Linked DNA regions of Homo sapiens. The protein of the gene in region 1 purifies or fractionates together with the protein of each later gene. This does not show direct contact. Each region holds a gene or a part of one and is shown in the gene's direction. Other genes may lie near its edges.

Region 1 (3,500 bases):
AGTAGAGACTGGATTTCACCATGTTGGCCAGGTTGGTCTTGAACTCCTGACCTCAGGTGATCCACCCACCTCGGCCTCCCACAGTGCTAGGATTACAGGCGGGAGCCACCGTGCTCAGCCGATTGTCACCCCTTCTAAATCTTTTAGATTTAAGACATATTTTTATTAGAGTTTAAAAAAAACTCCTGGTTTTTACATAAAAGCAGTAAGATGAAATGCACTCCAAAATGAAGGGTTTTTTTTAATGCAAAGCATTACAGTATCTGAAGTCAGTTGCCACTGTGCATCTCAGAGCAGTAATAGTGCTGTCGCCTCCTATTTTTATTTTCTGAAGTTGATAATCTCTAAGTTAATTGATTTTGTTATTGGAGGTTCGTCTTAAAAGAATTTATGGGCGACAATCATAAAAAATATTCCCAAAGAATATCTAATCTTAAAACTTAAAAACAAAAACAAAAGAAGTCATAAATGTTTAGTGGTTAGAACACAAAACTGGGAAGAAACAATTTTATGCTTATTTTCAACATTTTCAGTTTTTCTGTTGATATAAGTAATTTTTCCTATTTTGATCATGAGAAGATTTTTAAAATAAATTGTTTTTCCTTTTCTGAGTAATTTTTGTACATTCCAGTCCATTTAAAGCAAACTCTATATTTTTAGGGCTTACTTTATGATTCCACAATATATGTTCACTAAATACATTTTAATTTGAGTGTCCCCCCACCAGAAGTGATAGATAACCTATAAGTATGATCTAGTAATAGCTCATTATATATCTGCTAGAAATGTCTGCTCTCCTCTCTTTCTGTCTGCATTGCTAGCTTGATAGTAGTGGGAGAAGTTCACTTACTTGCTCATATCTGTCTTTATAGAAATCACACTTGTGGCTACTAAGCCAGAGAAGTTGGCTCCTTCCAGGCAAGACATTTTCCAAGGTATGATGATTTGATGGTTAGACGTAATAATCTTTCCCCTAGGCATTGTAAATATAAAAAGTCTACCAGTCTTACTCAAATTGATCGGTTCTCAATATAGGAAATCTTCGTGTGGCTGAACACCATAGGGTATAGTTGCTGAGGCTACCTGGAGTCCATGAACTTTCCAGTTTGTAATTGCTAATTGGGAATGTTTTTCTTTTCTGTATCTCGTTGGTTAACAGGGAACTCATTGTAAAATAAGTATTTACTTTCTTTTTTTTTTTTTTTGCTTTTTGCTTTCATTAATATATAAGCTTACTTACTTGAAAGATGACTTCACTAAAACTTGGGGACATATTAGTTGAATGTTCAACTATTAGTAAGGCTATGGAAACTAAAGCATTTTTTTTTTTTGAGACAGAGTCTCGCTCTGTCACCCAGGCTGGAGTGCAGTGGCACAATACCGGCTCGCTGCAAGCTCTGCCTCCTAGGTTCACGCCATTCTCCTGCCTCAGCCTCCCGAGTAGCTGGGACTACAGGCGCCTGCCACCACGCCTGACTAATTTTTTTGTATTTTTAGTAGAGACGGGGTTTCACCATGTTAGCCAGGATGGTCTTAGCCAGGATGGTCTCGATCTCCTGACCTCGTGATCCGCCTGCCTCGGCCTCCCAAAGTGCTGGGATTACAGGCGTGAGCCACTGCTCCTGGCCAACTAAAGCATTTTTTAAGCATCCAGACTGAAGTCTTTCCCTGTCTTCTTCATAGCCTACGTTCTTTTTTCTTGATAGAACAATTGGCTGCCATTCCTGAGTTTCTGAATATAGGACCCTTGTTCAAGTCTTCTGAGCCTGTTCAACTTACAGAAGCAGAGACAGAATATTTTGTTCGATGTATCAAGCACATGTTTACCAATCACATCGTGTTCCAGGTAAGATAATGCCCTTGGCTGCTGTAGAGATTTAGTATAAACTGGTATGCTTTGAGACAAATATCCTTTACCTATAATTCTAGTTTCTATTATAGAGAATTAATTTGGCAGAATTTCTGGTTTTCTTGCTTAACACCAGAGCTATAGAGATCCCTTCATGTGATGGGTAACTTTTGATGGTTAAAATCTAAAGGACATAAAACTGAAATGTGTGATGAAGTTGGACAACATAAAGTATAACCAATTTTCTAAAATCAGCATTTAACATCAGGGTAGATTAAGTGGGCTATTCTGAGAACTTAGATTTGACAGCCATCAGACTTCTGCCATCTTGTTTGAGACAGCAGTCTCAGGAAAGAGAAAAAACTGATGAATAATATAAACAAAAGACCTCAAGAATAAGGCTCTCCCTGTTGCCAAAAGAAGAATCTTAGGAGGAGACCTACCCTGCTCTGTAGAGATAGAAGGTATAGTGGGTTCCAGAGCTGAGTAGTGGGTTATGAGTAGGAAGGATAACTTGTTATCCTTCACAGCTTTTCCATTTACTGACTTTTCAGTTTGACTGCACCAACACTCTCAATGACCAGCTGCTGGAAAAAGTGACAGTGCAGATGGAGCCATCAGATTCCTATGAAGTGCTGTCTTGTATCCCAGCCCCCAGCCTTCCTTATAACCAACCAGGAATATGTTACACTCTTGTTCGTTTGCCTGATGATGACCCTACAGCAGGTACTAACCCTCAGAAGGGAGGAGATACGTGATTCAGAATGCATTTCCTTGTGAGCTCTTCAACTCTTCAAATGCTCAGTTTAAGAATGTGATGCTTTTCTAGAATTTAATGATGAGTGTTTGTGTGTGTGTGTTTGTGTGTGTGTGAATATATATATTTATAAAATGGTTTACTGCTGCAGAAATATTAATTTTAAAACTAAATCTCTGAGTAAAATTTGCTGAACACTTAATCTTAAAAGAGAAACTGAGTGTGTATAGCAGTAGCACAAAAAGGAACTCAAGCTTTCTGTTGGAATAATGTGACCACTTGTGAGAGTTCATATACCTGGTCTCCTGTGAAGAATCTTGACCCTCTTCTCCTCAAAGTTTCTATCTAGTTAGATAGAACTTGGTTATGTAGTAGATTGTTGGCATTTTAAAATACATCATTTTTGAAGGTCCTGTAGCATAAGGCTGGTGTCTGAGAGCATGTCTCAGCCTAGTGAGTAGCTTAGCCAACCATGTGTGTCCACATTAAGAAGGGCTTTTAATTCCCTCCTTGACCCATATGCAGTCTTTGCAGGGTGGAGAAATAGCCCCTAAAAGACAGCCAACTAGTGCCAATAGTAGTATTTACTTATTTGGAGACTTGGGAAGGTGAATGTCAAGTATTTATTCTACTTGATTCCCCCCATCATCATTTTCCTCCTTGATTTCTTCTCTTCTCATGTTCAGTGCACAATATTCGTAACTGTTACCCAGTTTTCACAGAAATAAGCACACACATCACATTTATGTTTTGAACAACTTTTACTGCTCGTAAGTACAGGAGAAACAGAAGTTAAAAAATTAACAAATACTGGGAAAGTTACAGAGTTACAATAAATCATAAAAGCACTAGTAAATAGTTATCCCTGGTCATCATTCAGTTACATTTGGGGCT
Region 2 (3,500 bases), on another chromosome or scaffold:
CTACCAAAAAATATAAAAGTTAGTTGGGCATAGTGGCACACACCTGTAATCCCAGCTACTCGGGAGGCTGAAGGCAAGAGAATTGCTTGAACCCGGGAGGCAGAGGTTGCAGTGAGCTGAGATCGCGCCACTGCACTCCAGCCTGGGAAACAAAGCAAGACACCGTCTCAAAAGAAAAAAAAAAAAAAGACAGTCAGCTGGGCACAGTGGCTCACGCCTGTAATCCCAGGACTTTGGGAGGCCGAGGCGGGCAGATTGCTTGAGCCCAGGAGTTTGAGACAAGCCTGGGCAACATGGCAAAATACCATCTCTACAAAAAAATTAGCCAGGAGAGGTGGCTTATACCTGTAATCCCAGCTACTTGGGAGTCTGAGGTGGGAGGATTGCTTGAGCTCTGGAGCCAGAGGTTGCAATGAGCTGAGATTGCGTCACTGTGCTCTAGCCTGGGTGACAGTGGGAGACCTTGTCTCAAAAAAAAAAAAAAAATCAAATAGTTGGCCAGGGGACCAACATGGACTAAACTGAGGTAGTAGTAATGGGGATGAGGGGACAGATATAAAAATATTTAAGCTGTAAAGCAATAGGTCTTTGGAGTGAGATTTATTATTTTAAGAAGCAATGCTCATTTATTCAGAGAAGTAAAATGGGAGAAACTGTCCATAGAGGTAGAAAATGCATATGCAGTCTACCTCTGCATATGGAACATTAGGACAGAGGCTTCCAAAAGGCATTTGTTTATATAAGCCAAGAGCTGTCAGCATAAAGGGAGTGGTGGTTAAAATTATGGGAACAGAGATGATGTCCCAGGGAGAGTGCTGAGAGTGTGGAGATTGAAGCCCAGAAGCCTCAGGACCATCAATATTCAAAGCAAGGCAACAGAAGAAAAGCTTCAAGCACAACTAAGAGATTGACATTAGGAAGATCAGGAAGAGTGGTCTAGTCTTGATGACTCAAATTTTTATAATTGTTGAAGGAAACAATTTATTGTTTGTTCATTCATACAATCAGTATTTATTGCACACCTCTTATGTGCCAGGCTATGTGCTAGGCACTGACTGGGGAAATGGGACTAAGAAAGACATTTACGCTCACATTCAAATATGTGGAGACAGAAGAGTGAGCAAGCAAAAAATACTAGATAGTGCTAAGTAGGATAATGTGAAAGAATGACTAGATGGCTGCTTTAAATTGGGTTGTCAGGCCAGGCCTTCTCTAAGGTGATATTTAAGCCTTAATATCTGAGGCCGTGATTCTGAGTGACAGGAAGGAGCCAGGCATGTGTGGGGCAGGGGAAGAGCAACTGGTCCAGACAGAAAAATCAACAAGGTGTGTCCGAGATGCCAAAAAAAGACCAGGGTGAATGTGTTGAAGGGCTGGAGAAAATACAAGAGTGGGTCATGTGGCCGGGTGCAGTGGCTCATGCCTGTAATCCCAACACTTTGGGAAGCCGAGGTGGGCAGATCATGAGGCCAGGAGTTCGAGACCAGCCTGGCCAACATGGTGAAACCCCATCTCTACTAAAAATACAAAATTTAGCCCGGTGGGGTGGCGGGAGCCTGTAATCTCAGCTACTTGGGAGGCTGAGGCAGGAGAATTGCTTGAACCTGGGAGATGGAGGTTGCAGTGGGCCGAGATCACGCCGCTGCACTCCAGCCTGGGTGACAGAGCAAGACTCCGTCTTGGGTGGGGAAGAGTGGGTCGTGCAAGACACTGGAATCTGGCATAGGCATTTGAATTTTACTGTCAGTGAAAATTAAGAGGATAATTAAATTAAGAATTGTTGGGGCACTTGAGTTTGGTGGTGAGGTGACTAGGCCAAAACCCTAGCCAATCCCCTAAGCACCCCACCCCACATTAAACCAGAGTGGGACGTTTTATTCACATATGCAACCTTTATGATCTAGCCCCAAGAAACTAGGAGGCGTATTAGCCCTTCTATTATCTATTCTTATTCTGGCAGTTATCCCTGTGCTTCACACATGCAAACAACAAAGCATGACATTCCGCCCACTAAGTCAATACCTGTTCTGATTCTTAAGTCGCCGACCTATTGGCCCTTACATGAATCGGAGGACAGCCAGTTGACGAGGTGATTCTGGCTATAATTGATCCACTGCTTTAAACTCCCTTGATATTAACAGTGTATTTCCCCTCCTAAAAAGTCAAAGTTTACTTCAAAATTGTACCCAGTGGGTTGAAAGCATTTGGTGTAGTACAGGGTATCTGTCAGATGCTTTCAGGCAGGTACTGAAGTTTGGAGAGCTGAGTCATAAGTAATATTGATTATTTAAGGCCAATTATAAATCTGTCTTAAAAAAAGACTTACCGTAAACCATTTCTGTGTCAACCTCCCTTCAGGAAACAAGTTTCAGCCACTAAGGCCGAAGCAGAAAAGGATGGAGTGAAGGTCCCCACAACCCTGGCGGAATACTGCATCAAAACTAAAGTGCCTTCCAATGACAACAGCTCAGATTTGCTTTACGACGACTTGTATGATGACGACATTGATGATGAAGATGAGGAGGAGGAAGATGCCGACTGTTATGATGATGATGATTCTGGGAATGAGGAGTCGTGACGTGCTCCTTCAGTGCCCCTGTACTGCCCTGCCATCTCAGGCCAAAGGGAGGGGAGCAAGTGGGGACCTGGCCATGGCCCCTCAGCAAAAACCTATTCACAGCGGGTGGGGAAACACACACAGCTCCTGCTGACTCCCCTTATGGATCTCAGTTTGCTCCTTTTTATGGACCTTTAATGGAGAGAGAGTAACCCTCCACAGAATGTCTGAATTCTTGCATTCTTTACCCTTCCATCACTATATTGATTCTTTTTTTAAAAAATATGAACCCAAACTCCCGCCTCACTTCGTCTCTACAGAATGTTCACAGCAAAACACGTTTGGTCTGTTTTTAGATTCTTGAAGAATTCAATAGTCTTTCAAGATGTTTAATGTGTTTAAAGCTGGGAACCTGTTGGGAGTTCACAAGTGCTGCATATACTGGGTAGCAAAAGAAAATGGAAAAAAACCCACAAAACAAACTTTAAAAAAAAAAAAAAACAAATTTGCCAAGGTTTAGCTGCTCATTTACATTAGTGTGTGTGCATTCGTTCAGCCCCATGGTGGTGAATTCTGTTTCTTTCCTTTCCTAAGGCTGGGACATGGTGGGCATCAGGGACTTTGTGCTAAGCCTGATGAAATGTGCTCCTTCAATCTCCATGAAACCATCGTAACATGGAGGCCTCAGCTGCTCTGAGGAGAGAAATCAGACTTTGTTTTTTGAAATCGATTGGGATCGAAAGCCTGAAATAAATATTCATACTTTCCATAGAACTGAGCACTTGGTTGCTATTTATTTTAAAGGCAGGGTTATTTCCCCCCAGGGAGTGGGGCAAGCGGGGAAGTTGGGATGAGTGCGTGTGGGAGCAAAGAGTTAAAAATCACTATGCTAAGTTTGGTTGATGCTACTGGGGGGAAAAAGTTGAAACTACTGGTGACCACT
Region 3 (3,926 bases), on another chromosome or scaffold:
AAATATATTAGTTCATTGGAACCCGTGTCTTTTAACCAAATGGAAATTATGCAAAAGGACCAGAAAATATTACTGGGTACAATTAAGGAATCACAGACAGATATTGATTGGTTAAAACACCCTCCACTTTCACCCCCAGGAAATAGGCCTCAGATGAAAGAAACTATTGAACAGGGAACCTATTTATTCACAGAGAACATATTCATGGCCTTAATTCAAGACAGGATTAAATACTTTCACGAGTTGGCAAAACCAACTGTGCCAATCTGAGATATTCATTGCTACCCTGGGAGTTAATGTATGTGACCCAAGCCATCAGGAAGACGATATTCTATTATCAATGAACACTCAAACACTAGAAAAATCATGATAGTTGCCACCATAATTCAAGATAGACACAATAAAGTGATTCTCCTGAGAATGTCTTCAAGGACTTATTGCTTCCTCTTCTCTGGAAAAAGGAATCCTCGAGGAGGAAGGGTTTACATTCCCCCACCTTCCCAACTGTCAGACTTCGGACCGCTCCTCTCCTGTCTAATCCGCCTTTCATTTCCCAGACGCCAACATCTGATCTCCAGGAGAAACAGTGCGGTAACTGCCTAACCAGGATTGGGGAAAACTGAACCAGGCACTGGACTTGGGTCTGGGGAGATAGAGGACTGCAGAGATTTCACAAACACCGCGGTGCCTAGTACACTATAGGAATAAGTGTACTATTCCTATAGTGTATACTTTTTTTTTTCCAGAAAAATCCCTCTGGGGTATGAGCACTATTTTCAGTTCTGGTTCAACTTTTCATTGAGATTCTATGTGGATAAGAGGATCTTGTAGTGAAAAAAAGATAAAAAGCAGTGTTTTCATCTGAGTGTGAGAAACCATGTGTGCCTAGAGGTGGGAGAACTGAGTATTCAGAAGGCAGAAAAAATAACTGAGAGCTGGGTGAATGATCCCACAGGCCCTAAGCCCTAGATGGTTGGGGATTAGCGATGTATAATTCAACTTCTGCCAGCGTTGGCGGCAGCGCTCCCACGTAGCCAGCCTGAGGCTGTCAAGCTCTGGACTACATTTCCCAGAAGGTCTGCTCCCCGGGCTGTCGCAATTTGAATTGGGGCGTGTCTAGAAAGAGAAGCCATAGTCGGCGAGCAACGCTGGAGCATCCCGCTCTGGTGCCGCTGCAGCCGGCAGAGATGGTTGAGCTCATGTTCCCGCTGTTGCTCCTCCTTCTGCCCTTCCTTCTGTATATGGCTGCGCCCCAAATCAGGTCTGTGCAAATGTATTGCCTTCTCTTGAGAATTCTTGTTGCGGGGCGGGAGGGAAACATAGAATCCCCACCAAAGCTTTCTTGGAAAACTCCCCTGGGGGGGCTCCAAGATGGCGGAGCCCAGAGTTCGGTGGGTTGGAGGCGAGGTCCAGCTGTCCTGGGTGCCAGGAGGACACCCGAGACCCCAGGCGGTGAGAAAGGGCGGCAGTCCGGGGCACACTGCTTTTCCCTGGCCTGTTTTTCTTTTGTCTAAGCACCCCCTGATTCTGGCTCCAGGGAATCCCGAGGGTAAGGCTACCTCAAACGCTTGAGTTTCGGACTCTTCAATGGGATATGGCCCGACGCTGTTTTCCCCTTATTCCCCACGCCTTAAACCAGCCTTCGAGGTACAAAGGAGCGATTCCACATTTCGCCCTCTGAAACTGATAGCAATCGTAACATCTGCGGCCCCATCCTTGCTCTCTCGTTGCTGTTACAATCGCTTGTTCTGTGGGCGGATGTTGTAAAGGAGAAAAGTGAAAAGGAAGAGTGTTTGGTTATGAGCTCTATCCTGCCTTGCGAGCAGGAGCACGGGGGATCTGAGTTAGGAGCTAGGGTACTGGGGCGGTGAGGGCTGGGAGAATGGTGGGAAGGTATTGACCAGGTGATAGATCAATCAGCCCAAGGCTGGCCAAGTGCCCCAGTGAATCAGCAGCGGGCTGTAAAACCGGCAGCCTGCTTATTGGTTCTAAGTAAATCACCAGTGGTGACGGACCAGTGACTGAATAGACAGACACACTCCTTCCCCAGGTGGGCGGTCTTAGTCCCAATAGAACTTGAAGCCAGGCCAGATCACAGTCATTTCTTACCACAGTCACCTACTTTCCTTCTTTTATTTTTATTTTCTCTTCCTTCTCTGGTGCCCCTCTTCCAGTTATATTTTTTCTGCCTTCTGAACACTCAGTTCTCCCACCTCTAGGCACACATGGTTTCTCACACTCAGATGAAAACACTGCTTTTTATCTTTTTTTCACTACAAGATCCTCTTATCCACATAGAATCTCAATGAAAAGTTGAACCAGAACTGAAAATAGTGCTCATACCCCAGAGGGATTTTTCTGGAAAAAAAAAAAATATATGTGTGTATATATATATATATATGTGTGTGTGTGTATATATATATATGTGTGTGTGTGTGTATATATATATATATATATATTCCAGGAGCTGTATTCCCAACTCAGCAGGGTTATGGGAGTCGGGCCAGAGCTGGACTTTTATAGTTGTCTCTTTCATTCCTGCTGGTTAAGGAGAAGAAAGAACTAAGTACAGGTCCTACTAAGTTGTCACTCCTGGAGCTACATACAGTAAGGGGATGTGGGAAACAGCCTAGAGGCTTGTTTTCTGAGGAGGGAGGTGATGGTTTGTGGGGACCATGAGTTAATCTGCCTCCCTGTCAGCATTTTCGCACTATGCAGGTAGCTTCAATGGCTAAGAGTATGTACCTTGCAATTCCAAGTTCAATGAAAAAGGCTGAAATGCTCTTTAAGAATGCATCTCCTGGTCAACAGATTGTTTTAACCAGAGTCCCAACATTGCCAAGAAGAGAATAGGCCAGTCTGAGAACCACCAATCTGTGTTTGTGCATTCATTCATTTGGAAAAGGCAATATAGTATAGTACTTAGAAACAAGCACTCTAGGCTGGGCTTGGTGACTCACACCTGTAATCCCAGCACTTTGGGAGGCTGAGGTGGGCGGATCACCTGAGGTCAGGAGTTCGAGACCATCCTGGCCAGCGTGGTGAAACCCTGTCTCTACTAAAAATACAAAAATTAGCTGGGCGTGGTGGCGCATGGGTGAGGGGGTGAGGGATGAGAATCGCTTGAACCTGGGAGATGGGGGTTGCAGTGGAGGTGGAGGTTGCAGTGAGCCGAGATCACACCATTGCACTCCAGCCTGGGCAACAAGAGCAAAACTCTGTCTCAAAAAAAAAAAAAAGAGAAAGAGAAAGAAAGAAACAAGGACTCTAATTACACAAAGCAAGACTTGAATCCCAGCTCCCCTTTGTACATACATAATCTTCTCTTTGTTTTAAGTGTGTATGTGCATGCGTGTGGGTGTGTTTTTTTTTTCTTGTTTATTTTGTCCCAGAGTCACAAGCTTTCATAATTTTAACTTTTTGTATTGGATTAGCCATTTCTCAAGGCCATAAAATGCCAGTTGTGGACAGATTGACCTACAGAAACTAGTTATTTCTTCTTCTGGGCTGAATCTTGTGATTTCCTAAGTCACAAGTGCCTTAGAGAGCTCAAACCAAAGCCAGGTGCCTGGCTAAGCAGGTATTCATCCAGTTCTTGTGCTGCAGAGAACAGCTGTAAGCTTTGCCCTTGTAATAGAATCACTTTTGTCTTTGAGCAAAAGCAGAAAACTTTTGTCATCTTTCCTCCAACTTTCCTTAAATGGACACTGTTTCCTTAAAAGGACAACAGTGGAAAGAACTAAAGCAAACCTCAGCCAGAAGACACAGGGAGTTGCAGGAACCTACTGGCTGAGACAGTAGAATGAAGAATTGATGAGCTCTCCTTCTCTGTCTGCAGGAAAATGCTGTCCAGTGGGGTGTGTACATCAACTGTTCAGCTTCCTGGGAAAGTAGTTGTGGTCACAGGAGCTAATACAGGTATCGGG
Region 4 (3,500 bases), on another chromosome or scaffold:
TGAGCACTCCACTTGAACACCCTGCAGTAAGCACCTGCAGTGAGTACCTCACAGTGAACACCCTGCAATAAGCACCTGCAGTGAGCACCCCACAGTGAACACCTTGCAATAAGCACCTGCAATGAGCACCCCACAGTGAACACCCTGCAATAACCACCTGCAGTGAGCACCCCACAGTGAACACCCTACAATAAGCACCTGCAGTGAGCACTCTACACAAACACCCTGCAGTAAGCACCTGTAGTGAGCACCCCACAGTGAACACCCTGCAGTAAGCACCTGCAGTGAGCACCCTGCAATAAGCACCTGCAGTGAGTACCCCACAGTGAACACCCTGCAATAAGCACCTGCAGTGAGCACCTCACAGTGAACACCCTGCAATAAGCAACTGTAGTGAGCACCCTGCAATAAGCACCTGCAGTGAACACCCCACAGTGAACACCCTGCAGTAAGCACCTACAGTAAGCACCCTGCAGTGAGCACCCCACAATGAACACCTTGCAATAAGCACCTGCAGTGAGCACCTGCAGGGCAGTTGTAGCTCTAATGCCATGGTCTTGTCTTGTTCTGTACAGCATGATGTATGGGAAGGGATGGATGAGATGCTTGGATACTGAGAACAGCACATGTAGAATCCGGGACCAGCTACCAATCCCCATCTGTTTGTTTTTCTAGAAACCCGAGATGATGAGCCTGTGTGTGGGAGACCCCTGGGTATCCGTGCAGGGCCCAATGGGACTCTCTTTGTGGCCGATGCATACAAGGGACTATTTGAAGTAAATCCCTGGAAACGTATGTGACAATATCTCGTTTCCTTCTATGAAGATTTTAGATCTTTTAAACAATATATGTATGTGTAGACTTAATAGGATTTGTTAGCAACAGTCTACTAAAGACTCTGATATTTCTTATTCACTGAACAGTACTGAAAACATTGCCTGCAAAAGTCAGCTAGTTTTAAACACCAGAAAACTCCCTACCCATGATTCCATTTGGTCCGTATCCTAATTTCCTCCTAGTATTTATATTTTAGCCACAGGGTCTCAAAAGGACTTATTTTGAGGAAGTTAGACCTCTTTCTGTCTTGATTTTTCTGTGTGTCTCTCTGCGTCTTGTCTATTTGTTTTCTCTCTTTCTTCTCTGTGGCCCTCCCCTTTGTCTCTTCCTTTCTGTTTTCTCCTGTAGTTCCTCCTCTTCTCTCCCCTGATTGCTCATGAGTCCCCTTGATCAGGCTGTAATACGTGCTGTGTGTCTCAGTGGAGGTTCCTGCTGGGGAGGAGTCCGTTGTCTTGTGCGTGGGGGCCCGAACATAGGCCCTGCAGCCCAGCTGCTTGGGGGCATTCCACTCTGCTGGCCACCAGCTGTGACTGCAGGTCCCTTAGTTGCTCTCTGCCCAGCTTCCTCATCAAATTGGGGTCATAGTAGCCCTGCCTGTGGGATTGTTGCGAGGGTTTAAAGGCGATCACACCTCGAGAGTGCTTAGCACTCAATCCATGTTCTTTCTATTATTTTTCAAAACTTACTACTACTTTTCTTTTCTAAAAGGAGATGAGTAGAATGTCATATTTCTCTCAAATAGAACTAACAAATAGAACTGAAGCCTGCCTAACACTTGCAGTAGATGTTATCAAGTCAGTTGGCCTTAGTAAAAGAAGGAATTCCTCATCCTTATAGAAAAGATTCTGCCTTTAATGAAATTAGTCTAAAAAAATCATTTAACACCTAATACTGTTTTTACTATAAGAAGGAATAAATCTTCTGACAAATGACATGGAGAAGTTTCAGTTTTTCTTTTTAAATCAGTTAGGTTGGTTAATATTTTGCAATTATTGAGAAGTTCCTAGTTCAAGTCAATCTTTTTCTTTCTTTTTAAACTTCAGGTGAAGTGAAACTGCTGCTGTCCTCCGAGACACCCATTGAGGGGAAGAACATGTCCTTTGTGAATGATCTTACAGTCACTCAGGATGGGAGGAAGATTTATTTCACCGATTCTAGCAGCAAATGGCAAAGACGAGACTACCTGCTTCTGGTGATGGAGGGCACAGATGACGGGCGGTGAGGCCTTGCTCCAGGTCTCCCATTTGTTGAGTTCACCAGCCAGGCCAGTTGCTTCAGCAGAGCCTGTTACTTCTAGGGACCAAGGGAGTATTTCCAGCATCATATTTCAGCTTCTAGGACAGGACCTTAGTGGCTTCTGGAGGCAGGTGATGGATGTCACAAAATGGAACAAGGTGCTTTCGTTTTCTCTGAGGAAATAAAACAGGCCAGTCCGTCTGAGGGTGCAAGTCTAGGCAGTCGAGAGAGACCCCGGAGGCAGGCCTGGGCTTTGGGTTGCCTCTCTGAGGGGTATTCCTGTCCAGCTCCCAGGTGAGCAAGATAACTGACCTTGGGGTTCCCTGGAGGGGACACTGGATCTGCTGTGGATGGGGAAGGGCCCCCAGGGGCCAGCCTCGAATCAAGTTTGAGCAGGGCACCCAGGGCCTGTTGCTCCGGGGTGAGGCGGAGTCACCTTCTTCAGGCCCATACCCTGAAGGCCCAGAGTGGGAGCCAGGGATTCTCCCCCATAACCCTCTGCTTTTGGTGTTCCACAGCCTGCTGGAGTATGATACTGTGACCAGGGAAGTAAAAGTTTTATTGGACCAGCTGCGGTTCCCGAATGGAGTCCAGCTGTCTCCTGCAGAAGACTTTGTCCTGGTGGCAGAAACAACCATGGCCAGGATACGAAGGTGTGTGTGGGATTAGCTGAGCCATCAGTTACTGGCCAGAGCGCATCATGGCCGGGGTGGGGTGGGCATGGAAATGGGATCGACAGAAATCAGAGGCAGCAGCGCACCTTCTGCATGGCATGTTAAAGAAAATTCAAGGGTGCGCTTTCTTTCTCCCATTGCGAGTCGCAGTCCGGAAGAGTGTCTTAAGGCTGACTGGTGCAGCCCGGGCCCCATTCCCCTGCTGGCAGGGCCTTGGTCCTCCCCTGACCTACTTCCCCTCTGTTCATACTGGGCCCTGTGCACAAAGGTTTCTTCTCAGCAGCTGAGCCTTTGTTCATGATGGTCATAGAGCACTTTCCATATATATATTTGGACCAAGACCAGTTTGGTGCTTGGCTAAAATTTTTTTTCTGAAATTGAGGGGCTATGGTTCACTCTCTGCTTGGGTGAATTTTTCAGAGTCTACGTTTCTGGCCTGATGAAGGGCGGGGCTGATCTGTTTGTGGAGAACATGCCTGGATTTCCAGACAACATCCGGCCCAGCAGCTCTGGGGGGTACTGGGTGGGCATGTCGACCATCCGCCCTAACCCTGGGTTTTCCATGCTGGATTTCTTATCTGAGAGACCCTGGATTAAAAGGATGATTTTTAAGGTAACTGTGAAAACTGTTATTCCAAGAAAGAAAATGGAAATGAATTGAATCATATTTTTTTGACCCTTATAGCTTAAAAATCTAGTTCTGCTTGTAGTATTTGGCTCTGAATGACACTTAGAAACACATTTCATTCTTCA
Region 5 (3,500 bases), on another chromosome or scaffold:
AGGCACTGTGCCTGATACTGGGAATGTGGATTCAGTCCAAGTCCTCTTAAAGCCCATCCAGCAAGGGGCACTGACAAGTAATCAGGCAGTTTTTCAAGAATTCATTCACACACAAGAAAACAAAAGAAAAAAAAGAATTAATTTGCAGCTGTCATCAGCTGTGGACGGGAGCCTTCTGAAGGGAAGCACTTGGGAGCCTGCAGGACGAATACCTACACCAGACTTGGAATTGAAAAGACCTCACTGGAGAAAGAGACATTTGATGTAAATGAGTCTGAAAGGCTTGGGAGGAGCTTGATTCCCTTCTCTGATCCTTCCTGTCCCAGAACTCTAAGATGTGTGGTCAGAACAAGTTGTTCTGCTATGGCCTAGGCAGTCACTGCTAGGAGTAACCTGAAACCTTGTTTTGTGGTACCAGGTACAGTGGCAGTGGCCTTGTCAGGGTCTGGACACGTTTAAAAAATTTTTTTGAGACAGTCTCACTCTCTTGCCCAGGCTGGAGTGCAGTGGTGTGATCTTGGCTCACTGCAATCTCTGCCTCCCGGGTTCAAGCAATTCTTGTGCCTCAGCCTCCCAAATAGCTGGGATTACAGGTGCACGCCACCATGCCCAGCAAATTTTTTTTTGTATTTTTAGTAGAGACGCATTTTGCCACATTGGCCAGGCTGGTCTCAAACTCCTGACCTCAAGTGATCCACTTGCCTCGGCCTCCCGAAGTGTTGGGATCATAGATGTGAGCCACTGTCCCTGGCCAAGGTCTGGGCACTTTTATTTGGTAAAATTGGAAGTGTAGTTTCTGACTGTTTCTGAATTATTTTGTGGAGATAAGAATTAACCGGAAACTCCTTTTGTATCCGATCCATATAGTATTGGGACAAAATTATGGGATAGATTACATTGAATACATATTCATAAAAAATGGTAGCAGATCTCGGCTCACTGCAGGCTCCACCTCCGGGTTCATGCCATTCTCCTGCCGCAGCCTCCCAAGTAGCTGGGACTACAGGTGCCCGCCACCACGCCTGGCTAATTTTTATTTTTGTATTTTTAGTAGAAACGGGATTTCACCGTGTTAGCCAGGGTGGTCTCGATCTCCTGACCTCGTGATCTGCCCGCCTCGGCCTCCCAAAGTGCTGGGATTACAGGCACGAGCCACCATGCCGGCTGAAAATCACAATTCTAATCTCATGTCTCAAGATAATCTTTGTTATTAGTTTGTGTAGGAAATACACATTTTTATTTTACAAAAGTGTATTATTCTTTATTGCTTTTTTGCAGCCTGTTCTTTTTCATTCAATATATATTGAGCATTCTTTCCTATTAAGTATGACATATTGCTTTTTTTTTTTTTTAAACTACAGATATAAAAGGTCTGAGGTGGCCGGGCACGGTGGCTCATGCCTGTAACCCCAGCACTTTGGGAGGCCGAGGCGGGTGGATCACCTGAGGTCTGGAGTTCGAGATCAGCCTGGCCAAGATGGTGAAACCCTGTCTCTACTAAAAACACAAAAATTAGCTGGACGTGGTGACATGCACCTGTAATCCCAGCTACTCGGGAGGCTGAGGCAGGAGAATTGCTTGAACCTGGGAAGCGGAGGTTGCAGTGAGCCAAGATTGCGCCACTGCACTCCAGCCTGGCGAAAGAACAAGACTCTGTCTCAAAAAAATAAAAATTAAAAAATAAAAGGTCTGAGACAGATTGCATTTTGATGTCACTGTTTAGAAGTAGACTAGATTCTAGGTGCTTTTTAGCACCCTGGAAGTTTCTTCCTTTTTTTGGTGGTGGAGGACAGGGTCTCACTCTGTTACCCAGGCTGGAGTGTACTTCAGCCTTGAACTCCTGGGCTCAAGCAATCTTCCTATCTCAGCCTCCTGAGTGGCTGGGACTATAGGGGTGCACTGCTACGCTCAGCTAATTTTTTATTTTTTGTAGAGATGGGGGTCTGACTGTGTTGTCTAGGCTGATCTCAAACTCCTGGCCTCAAGTGATCCTCCTGCCTCAGCCTCCCAAAGTGCTGGGATTACAGGTATGAACCACCATGCCTGGCCTATCCTGGAAGTTAGACATCCCAGTGACTATTGTCCCCTTTAAGGAGGGGGCCATGGGAAGCAATACTGGTAATGGGAAAAACGGATTTGGGAAATTTTTCTAAGTGTTGTAGGGTGGCATACTCACACTTTCAGGGTTCTGCCCTGAGAGCCTTTTAGGATGGGTAAGAGGGACTATAACACCTCTACCTCTCAGCCCCAGGCACAAAGACAGCTACAGCTTCTGAGCTGAGCCCTGTGTGTAGCATGTAAAGGGGATGACCAGTGCCTTATGGTTTGTCTTTACCACTGCTGGTTTGGGGCTGTGGACTACAATTGACCTGTTAGAAATCCCTGGCCTTGTTATCTAGCAGAATCTGTTTTGCCTGTTGGGAAGTGAGTGTTCGGTCAGGTCTTTTGTTTTTGTATGTAGGTCACCTGGCTGTCCTTCACCTTCCTTTTTGAGGTCAGTCTGTCAGCCCTAGGACAGACCAAGACTTTCCATTGAATCAACAATTATTAAAGGCCTGCCTGACCCTTGGCGGGTAATACTGGTGGGGTTAAAGTTCTCCCTGCCCTCCAAGAGCTTGCTCTGTAGCTGACTGTCATCTTATTGACCACAATTCCAAGTGTGGCCAAACCCTGGGAGTTCCTGATGGCATCCTGATTTCTCTGTAACTTTTCTTTCCAGTGCCCGCTCACTGTAGTTACTTGCCACTGTTACCACCCAGGAGGTACAGAACCTTGTCCGCTGCCGCAGACCTTGATCTGACCCGCCTTACCACTCCCTTGGCTACCATGCTCCTGCCTCTAGTCTTGCTTTTGCCACTTCATGCCTTCCCCACTGTGCTGCCAGATGAGTCATTCTGAAACCAAGCTCTGATCTCACCTCCCATTCATGAATTGTAAGTGACTCTCCTGTCTTTCTCTGCAGGAGATGTCAAGCCCTGGCCTAGTGTGCAAAGCCCTGTCCAGTACAGCCTGTCTAGGCCTTGGAGCCACCTCTGTCCTGTCTGCTTCCTACCCTCTAGGCTGCAGCCCAGCTGAACTACTTGTAGTTTCTTTCCCGCTTGTGGGCACCTGCCACTCTGCTCCCACCATTCCTGTGGTCCTTCAGTCCCTGCATATCTGTCCAGGCCCAGCTGAAGTGTCACCAGCTCTATCAGCCTTCTCTGATTTTCCTCCACTCGGAGGAGATTTCTTCCCCTGAACTCCTAGAGGGTTTTCGCTTTCTCTGATAATCTGATATAACTTGCTGGCTGCCTTTCCTGGTGCTCTTGATAGAAAATATTTCTTTCAGGGGACCATAACTTCTGGGAGGCAAGAATAATCTTCCAGTCCCTTCAAGCTTTCACGTGTTGCTTGGCACTCTGCAGGCACTTCAGGAAACCTCGTGAGCCTTCCCCTGCCATTTGAGTGACTTGGAGTGCCCAGGGTCATCCCACAGTCTCAAAGCAGAGCTGGCATTGGGC
Region 6 (3,500 bases), on another chromosome or scaffold:
ATATGTGTAGTTTTGGGTTCAGTGTATGAATTATGCTTAATACTTTTCACTGAAATGAAAATTTGTTTTTTCATCTGTAACCTTTGATTTTTCGGGTAGATCATGCGCAGGGAGAAACTCCTTGCTTGCTCTCACCAGCCCTGTTCCAGTCACGGGTGATCCCCGTGCTTCTCCAGTTGTTTGAAGTTCATGAAGAGCATGTGCGGATGGTGCTGCTGTCTCACATCGAGGCCTACGTGGAGCACTTCACTCAGGAGCAGCTGAAGAAAGTCATCTTGCCACAGGTCAGAGGCCAAGTTTGCAGTGGGGTAGTCACAGAACCTGAGGGAAGAGTGCTGAAAGAAAGAGTTTTGGAGGTATTCAGATAATAGCTTAGAAAGCCTTCAGGCAGCAGTCTGTGGAATACAAAGTGCTGAAATTAAAATTGCATTTCCATTCCATTCACACAGGCAAATTGATTAAACTGACATATTTGGTCTTAACCTGGGAGAAACTATAATTGTTTGTTAATTTTGGGAGGGTAAATGAATAACAATAATGTATGGAGCACTTTGTGAACATAACATATAATTATCCATAATTATTATAAAGTAATTAAATTAGAACAGAGAGGAGCATGAGATGATTCTTATCAGTGGCTTTCAGCCTGTTGTTATCAGCCACTAGGGAACCTTATTATGATTTGCCCACCAAAGGGTTTTGTTAGTGAAACTAATGAAAGGTTTGTATTAGTTGCTTAGGCTGCCATAACAAATTATCACAAATTATAATGGCTTAAAGCAATACAAATTTATTTTTAGTTCTGGAGGCCAGAAGTCTAAAACCAGGGTGTCAACAGGACCCTGCTTCCTCTGAAGGCTGTAGGATGTGAAAGGGACTCCTCTTTACAAGCTTCTCGTAGCTCCCAGCAATCCTTGGTATTTCTTGGCTTGTGGCTGTATCATTCCAGTCTCTGCTTCTGTTGTCACGTGGCCTTCTTACCTCCTTGTCTGTCTTTACATGGCCTCTTAGAAAGACACCAGTCATTGAATTTATGGCCTACCCTAACCCAGTATGACCTCATCTAAAGGTCACATTCTGCATGGACATGAATTTTGGAGGGACACTATTCAACCTAGTATGAGGTTTTAAAAAAATTGTTTTAAAAGACTACAATCACATGGTGTCTTTCAAATAATTTTCCTATGAGATAGATTAACATTCTCTCTGCTTTCAAGGAGCTCATAAGTGGGACATGTTTCAGTCATCCGTTGCCATGTAAGTACCCCAAAACTTAGTGCCTTAAAATAATAATCATTTTATTAATTCTCATGATTCTTTGGATTGACTGGACTCAGCTGAAGGTTCTGTTCCACATATCAGCTGAGTCTTCAGTCATCTGGGGCCCGACAAGGGTTGACACATCCAAAATGGCTCCTTGGTATCTTGGAAGGGGTGGCTGAGAGGCTGCGCCTTTCTCTCCATGAATTTTCAGGAAGCTTGGGGGGCTTGTATCCCCCCATGTGACATTTCCACATGATTTCTCTAGCAAGGCAGGTGGACTTCTTAAATGGCTGGCCAGGGCTAAAGAAAAAAAAAGGGCAAAAGAAGCCTTCTTAAAGTGTAGGTTGTGAACTGACAGTCATTTTTGCCTCATTCTCTCGGTTAGAGTTGGAAAAAGCCCAGGCTCATTGTGGGATGGGTTTACTCAAGGGCATGGATACTGGAGGTGTGATTCGCTGGGGGCTGACTTTAAAGTCTCTGTGTTGTAGTAACTACAACATAGCACTTTGTATTTACATCTGCAGCAGTAATTGTTACCCTGTATGTAGTTGTGTCTGGAAATTTAGAAGAGGAATGAAGCACTTTAACTCTGAAATGGAGTTGTCATCATAGGTCTCAGAATTGGACTGAGGTCAAAGAGTAAATGTTGAGCATGTGGAAGACAATGAAACCTCTCATTACTTAGGAAACTGCTTCCCCTAAAGAAGAGTGGGCCAATTTGTGTGTGCTAGAAAGTTCACTTTGGTAGCAGTGTGGAAGAGACCACAGAAAGGGAGATAAGCTAGGAAGCTGTTAGAATAGTTTAGCTAAGAGATGACAAAGGCTGGGGAAAGTGTGACAGTGGATATAGTAGAGGGACACAGAAGGGGTAGTACTCAGTTTCTCATTAGATGGAAGAGGTGTTGAGGATGACCAATTTTTGGCTTGGGCGGATTGCTGTTTTATGATTATCATATTCAGTGGGCAGAACTCTAATCATATGTAAAAGAAACATGCTTTAGTTTACATGTACAGAAAGTGATCTGTTAGCATTGGTCCTAATAATTATCTTTTGAGTCCTGTTGGAAACCTTTAATCTTACTATATAAATGAGGAAACCAGGCCAGAAAAATAAAAAGACCAATTGGTCAAGTCACATTGAGAATTATTAGCAGAGCTAAGACCAAAACCAAAGATTCCTGATACCTGTCACGCCCTGCTGCTTCCAGTAGGCAGGCCAGTTACCCTGGCCTTGTGTCTGGCTGGTGCAGATGCTTTGAAGGTCATTTCCTTCCTTATATGCAGAGCAGTACTTGCCTGATATCTGCATGTGACTGTCTTCTAAGGTGTTTTTGGTTGCAAGTAACTGAAACTCATTTTAAACCAGCCAAAGCAAAAAAAATTTAAGAATGTTAGACTAACTTAGATGGAAATCAAGTGCAGCTGGGGCTTACAGCCATGTTTTTCATTCCTTTCTTCTGTCTGCATTTGTTTGACTTTTGACTCTCTGAAGACCAGCTTTCCTTGTTTTGGTGTGCACATGGCCAAAATGGTTGTCCCATAACTTCCAAGTTTTCTGTCCTCATAAAAAAAAATTATTTTAGAGATGGGGGTCTCACTGTGTTGCCCAAGCTAGAGTGCAGTGGCTCTTCACAGGCATGAACCCACTACCGATCAGCCCAGGAGTTTGACCTGCTCCATTTCCAACCTGGGCTGGTTCACCCCTCTTTAGGCAACCTGGTAGTCCCCAGCTCCTGGGAGGTTACTATATTGATGCTGAATTTAGTGCAGACACCCAATCAGCATAGCACACTACAGCCCAGAACTCCTGGGCTCAAGTGATCCACATGCCTCAGCCTTCTGAGTAGCTCGGGCTACAGGCACTTGTCCCTGCCTGGCATACTGTCCTCATTGAGTAAACCTATATAAACTGAAAATATAAATTCTAGTTTATATTACTGGACAAAAGATCATGATGGGCTCAGTTTGGGACAGGTGGTCCTACCCTTGAAAAGAGCTGAAAAGAGAAGCATGGACAGGAACATAACTGTTAGTACCCTAGATGAGTTCTGAGTGCGCTCTGCAGAACACTGCCAGTACATGAACTTTTTATTACAGTTCTGTGATGTGAGTACAGATATGAAGACTTAACATTTAAAACCTTTTGTCGCAATTTGACAGAGTAATTTTATGTACCCAACATATGTCTTTTTAATTTTGTTTTGATTGTATTTTTTAAAAATGGTAAGTCTGTGATG
Region 7 (2,167 bases), on another chromosome or scaffold:
CTGCCAGTCCCTGGGGGGAGGCAGGAGGCACATGTGAGGGTCCCCAGAGAGAAGGGAGTGGGTGGGCAGGGGTAGAGGAGGGGGCCGCTGTCCACCTGCCCAGTGCTTGGCCTGGCAGTGGCTTCAGAGAGGACCTGGTGGGGAGGGAGGGCTTTCCTGTGCTGACAGCGCTCCCTCAGGAGGGCCTTGGCCTGGCACGGCTGTGCTCCTCCCCTGCTCCCAGCCCAGAGCAGCCATCAGGCTGGAGGTGACGATGAGTTCCTGAAACTTGGAGGGGCATGTTAAAGGGATGACTGTGCATTCCAGGGCACTGACGGAAAGCCAGGGCTGCAGGCAAAGCTGGACATGTGCCCTGGCCCAGGAGGCCATGTTGGGCCCTCGTTTCCATTGCTAGTGGCCTCCTTGGGGCTCCCGTTGGCTCCTAATCCCTTAGGACTGTGGATGAGGCCAGACTGGAAGAGCAGCTCCAGGTAGGGGGCCATGTTTCCCAGCGGGGACCCACCAACAGAGGCCAGTTTCAAAGTCAGCTGAGGGGCTGAGGGGTGGGGCTCCATGGTGAATGCAGGTTGCTGCAGGCTCTGCCTTCTCCATGGGGTAACCACCCTCGCCTGGGCAGGGGCAGCCAAGGCTGGGAAATGAGGAGGCCATGCACAGGGTGGGGCAGCTTTCTTTGGGGCTTCAGTGAGAACTCTCCCAGTTGCCCTTGGTGGGGTTTCCACCTGGCTTTTGGCTACAGAGAGGGAAGGGAAAGCCTGAGGCCGGCATAAGGGGAGGCCTTGGAACCTGAGCTGCCAATGCCAGCCCTGTCCCATCTGCAGCCACACTACTCGCTCCTCTCCCAACAACTCCCTTCGTGGGGACAAAAGTGACAATTGTAGGCCAGGCACAGTGGCTCACGCCTGTAATCCCAGCACTTTGGGAGGCCAAGGCGGGTGGATTACCTCCATCTGTTTAGTAGAAATGGGCAAAACCCCATCTCTACTAAAAATACAAGAATTAGCTGGGCGTGGTGGCGTGTGCCTGTAATCCCAGCTATTTGGGAGGCTGAGGCAGGAGAATCGCTTGAGCCCGGGAAGCAGAGGTTGCAGTGAACTGAGATAGTGATAGTGCCACTGCAATTCAGCCTGGGTGACATAGAGAGACTCCATCTCAAAAAAAAAAAAAAAAAAAAAAAAAGGCAATTGTGCGGAGCCAACCATCACTGCCATTACACTCACATTCAATGGAAATTGATTAGGCCTGAGAGAAGGAGCAAGAGGCAGAAACACTGACTCTGAGACCATGACCTTGGAAGATCCTCAGAGATCAACTAGCCAAGTCACTCACTTAAAATGGGGAAACTGAGGTTCCAACTGACAGAAACTGAGGGTCCTGCCCTCTTCTCTGGCTCCTCAGTCTCCAGTTTGAAGCAACAGAGCCATCATTTTCCCAGTGGGAGGGGCCTCTGTGTCCTGGTCTATGATGGGGCGAGTTGGAGGGGTGGGCTTCTCTAGCCCTGCCCCCTCCCAGGAGCCCAGCCCCTCTGGCCAGGACTGAGGAGGAGTGGAGGGAAGCAGGGAGGGAGGGAGCAAGTGTGAAGGGCACAGCTGCTGGCAAATGCCCCATTCCCTGCCCCAGCACTTCCCAGCCTTTCCAGGAGCTCTGCCCCACCCCTACTCAAGGAGTCAGGTGCCCAGGGTAGGGAATAAGTCTAGGAAAGGGGGTGGAGACAGGACCGTGACAGTCTCAGGGACCAATCCCTGCCTCTGCCCATCAGATTGCCAATTTGGGGAGACAGCAATATCATCTGGGAGATTCAGCTTAATTTGCTTCAATTCAGCAACCATTTATTGAGCATCTATTATGTGCCAGGCACTGTGCCGGGCACTGGGGATATACACAAAGCCATAAGCACTGGGGACTGCCAGGTTGGCACTGTAGGGACCAAGATTAACTTTTTGGTGCATCTAATTCCACCTCTGCAAGACACTGCTTCCAAGGCTACAGTTGGGGAAGATGAAGAGATTCTAGAATCTGTGCCCTGGGAAGGGAGAAACAGCAGGGAAGAGGGGCAATACAACAGGGTCAAGGGTGCAGAGGCCAGGCAGAGTGGGTGCAGAGTGGGGGATGGGCAACCAGCCTGGTAACACCTGGGTGAGGTGAGCGAGTCAAGCCCATCTGGAAATGC

The links.
Region 2: the proteins of COPG2 (region 1) and UBE2R2 purify together in Homo sapiens (affinity purification with mass spectrometry; one large-scale study listed by BioGRID and IntAct). This does not show direct contact.
Region 3: the proteins of COPG2 (region 1) and RDH11 purify together in Homo sapiens (affinity purification with mass spectrometry; one large-scale study listed by BioGRID and IntAct). This does not show direct contact.
Region 4: the proteins of COPG2 (region 1) and APMAP purify together in Homo sapiens (affinity purification with mass spectrometry; one large-scale study listed by BioGRID and IntAct). This does not show direct contact.
Region 5: the proteins of COPG2 (region 1) and MCFD2 purify together in Homo sapiens (affinity purification with mass spectrometry; one large-scale study listed by BioGRID and IntAct). This does not show direct contact.
Region 6: the proteins of COPG2 (region 1) and SCYL3 purify together in Homo sapiens (affinity purification with mass spectrometry; 2 studies listed by BioGRID and IntAct, with this or other methods). This does not show direct contact.
Region 7: the proteins of COPG2 (region 1) and SCN2B purify together in Homo sapiens (co-immunoprecipitation; one large-scale study listed by IntAct). This does not show direct contact.

What each region holds. Positions count from the first base shown.
Region 1 is NC_000007.14:130,546,749-130,550,248, reverse strand, and holds part of COPG2 (coatomer subunit gamma-2), read left to right. Parts: intron 1-872; coding exon 873-935; intron 936-1,706; coding exon 1,707-1,846; intron 1,847-2,403; coding exon 2,404-2,575; coding exon of another isoform or gene 2,576-2,607; exon of another isoform or gene 2,608-3,500. UniProt on the Homo sapiens protein: The coatomer is a cytosolic protein complex that binds to dilysine motifs and reversibly associates with Golgi non-clathrin-coated vesicles, which further mediate biosynthetic protein transport from the ER, via the Golgi up to the trans Golgi network.
Region 2 is NC_000009.12:33,914,660-33,918,159, forward strand, and holds part of UBE2R2 (ubiquitin-conjugating enzyme E2 R2), read left to right. Parts: intron 1-2,358; coding exon 2,359-2,578; 3' UTR 2,579-3,500. UniProt on the Homo sapiens protein: E2 ubiquitin-conjugating enzyme that accepts ubiquitin from an E1 ubiquitin-activating protein, and catalyzes its covalent attachment to other proteins by an E3 ubiquitin-protein ligase complex.
Region 3 is NC_000014.9:67,692,965-67,696,890, reverse strand, and holds the start of RDH11 (retinol dehydrogenase 11), read left to right. Parts: upstream 1-1,126; 5' UTR 1,127-1,187; coding exon 1,188-1,261; intron 1,262-3,838; coding exon 3,839-3,926. UniProt on the Homo sapiens protein: Retinol dehydrogenase with a clear preference for NADP. Displays high activity towards 9-cis, 11-cis and all-trans-retinol, and to a lesser extent on 13-cis-retinol.
Region 4 is NC_000020.11:24,968,752-24,972,251, reverse strand, and holds part of APMAP (adipocyte plasma membrane-associated protein), read left to right. Parts: intron 1-675; coding exon 676-792; intron 793-1,880; coding exon 1,881-2,055; intron 2,056-2,591; coding exon 2,592-2,726; intron 2,727-3,167; coding exon 3,168-3,360; intron 3,361-3,500. UniProt on the Homo sapiens protein: Exhibits strong arylesterase activity with beta-naphthyl acetate and phenyl acetate. May play a role in adipocyte differentiation.
Region 5 is NC_000002.12:46,909,307-46,912,806, reverse strand, and holds part of MCFD2 (multiple coagulation factor deficiency protein 2 isoform A precursor), read left to right. Parts: intron 1-1,933; exon of another isoform or gene 1,934-2,027; intron 2,028-3,500. UniProt on the Homo sapiens protein: The MCFD2-LMAN1 complex forms a specific cargo receptor for the ER-to-Golgi transport of selected proteins. Plays a role in the secretion of coagulation factors.
Region 6 is NC_000001.11:169,859,397-169,862,896, reverse strand, and holds part of SCYL3 (protein-associating with the carboxyl-terminal domain of ezrin), read left to right. Parts: intron 1-99; coding exon 100-284; intron 285-3,500. UniProt on the Homo sapiens protein: May play a role in regulating cell adhesion/migration complexes in migrating cells.
Region 7 is NC_000011.10:118,164,473-118,166,639, reverse strand, and holds part of SCN2B (sodium channel regulatory subunit beta-2 precursor), read left to right. Parts: 3' UTR 1-2,167. UniProt on the Homo sapiens protein: Regulatory subunit of multiple voltage-gated sodium (Nav) channels directly mediating the depolarization of excitable membranes.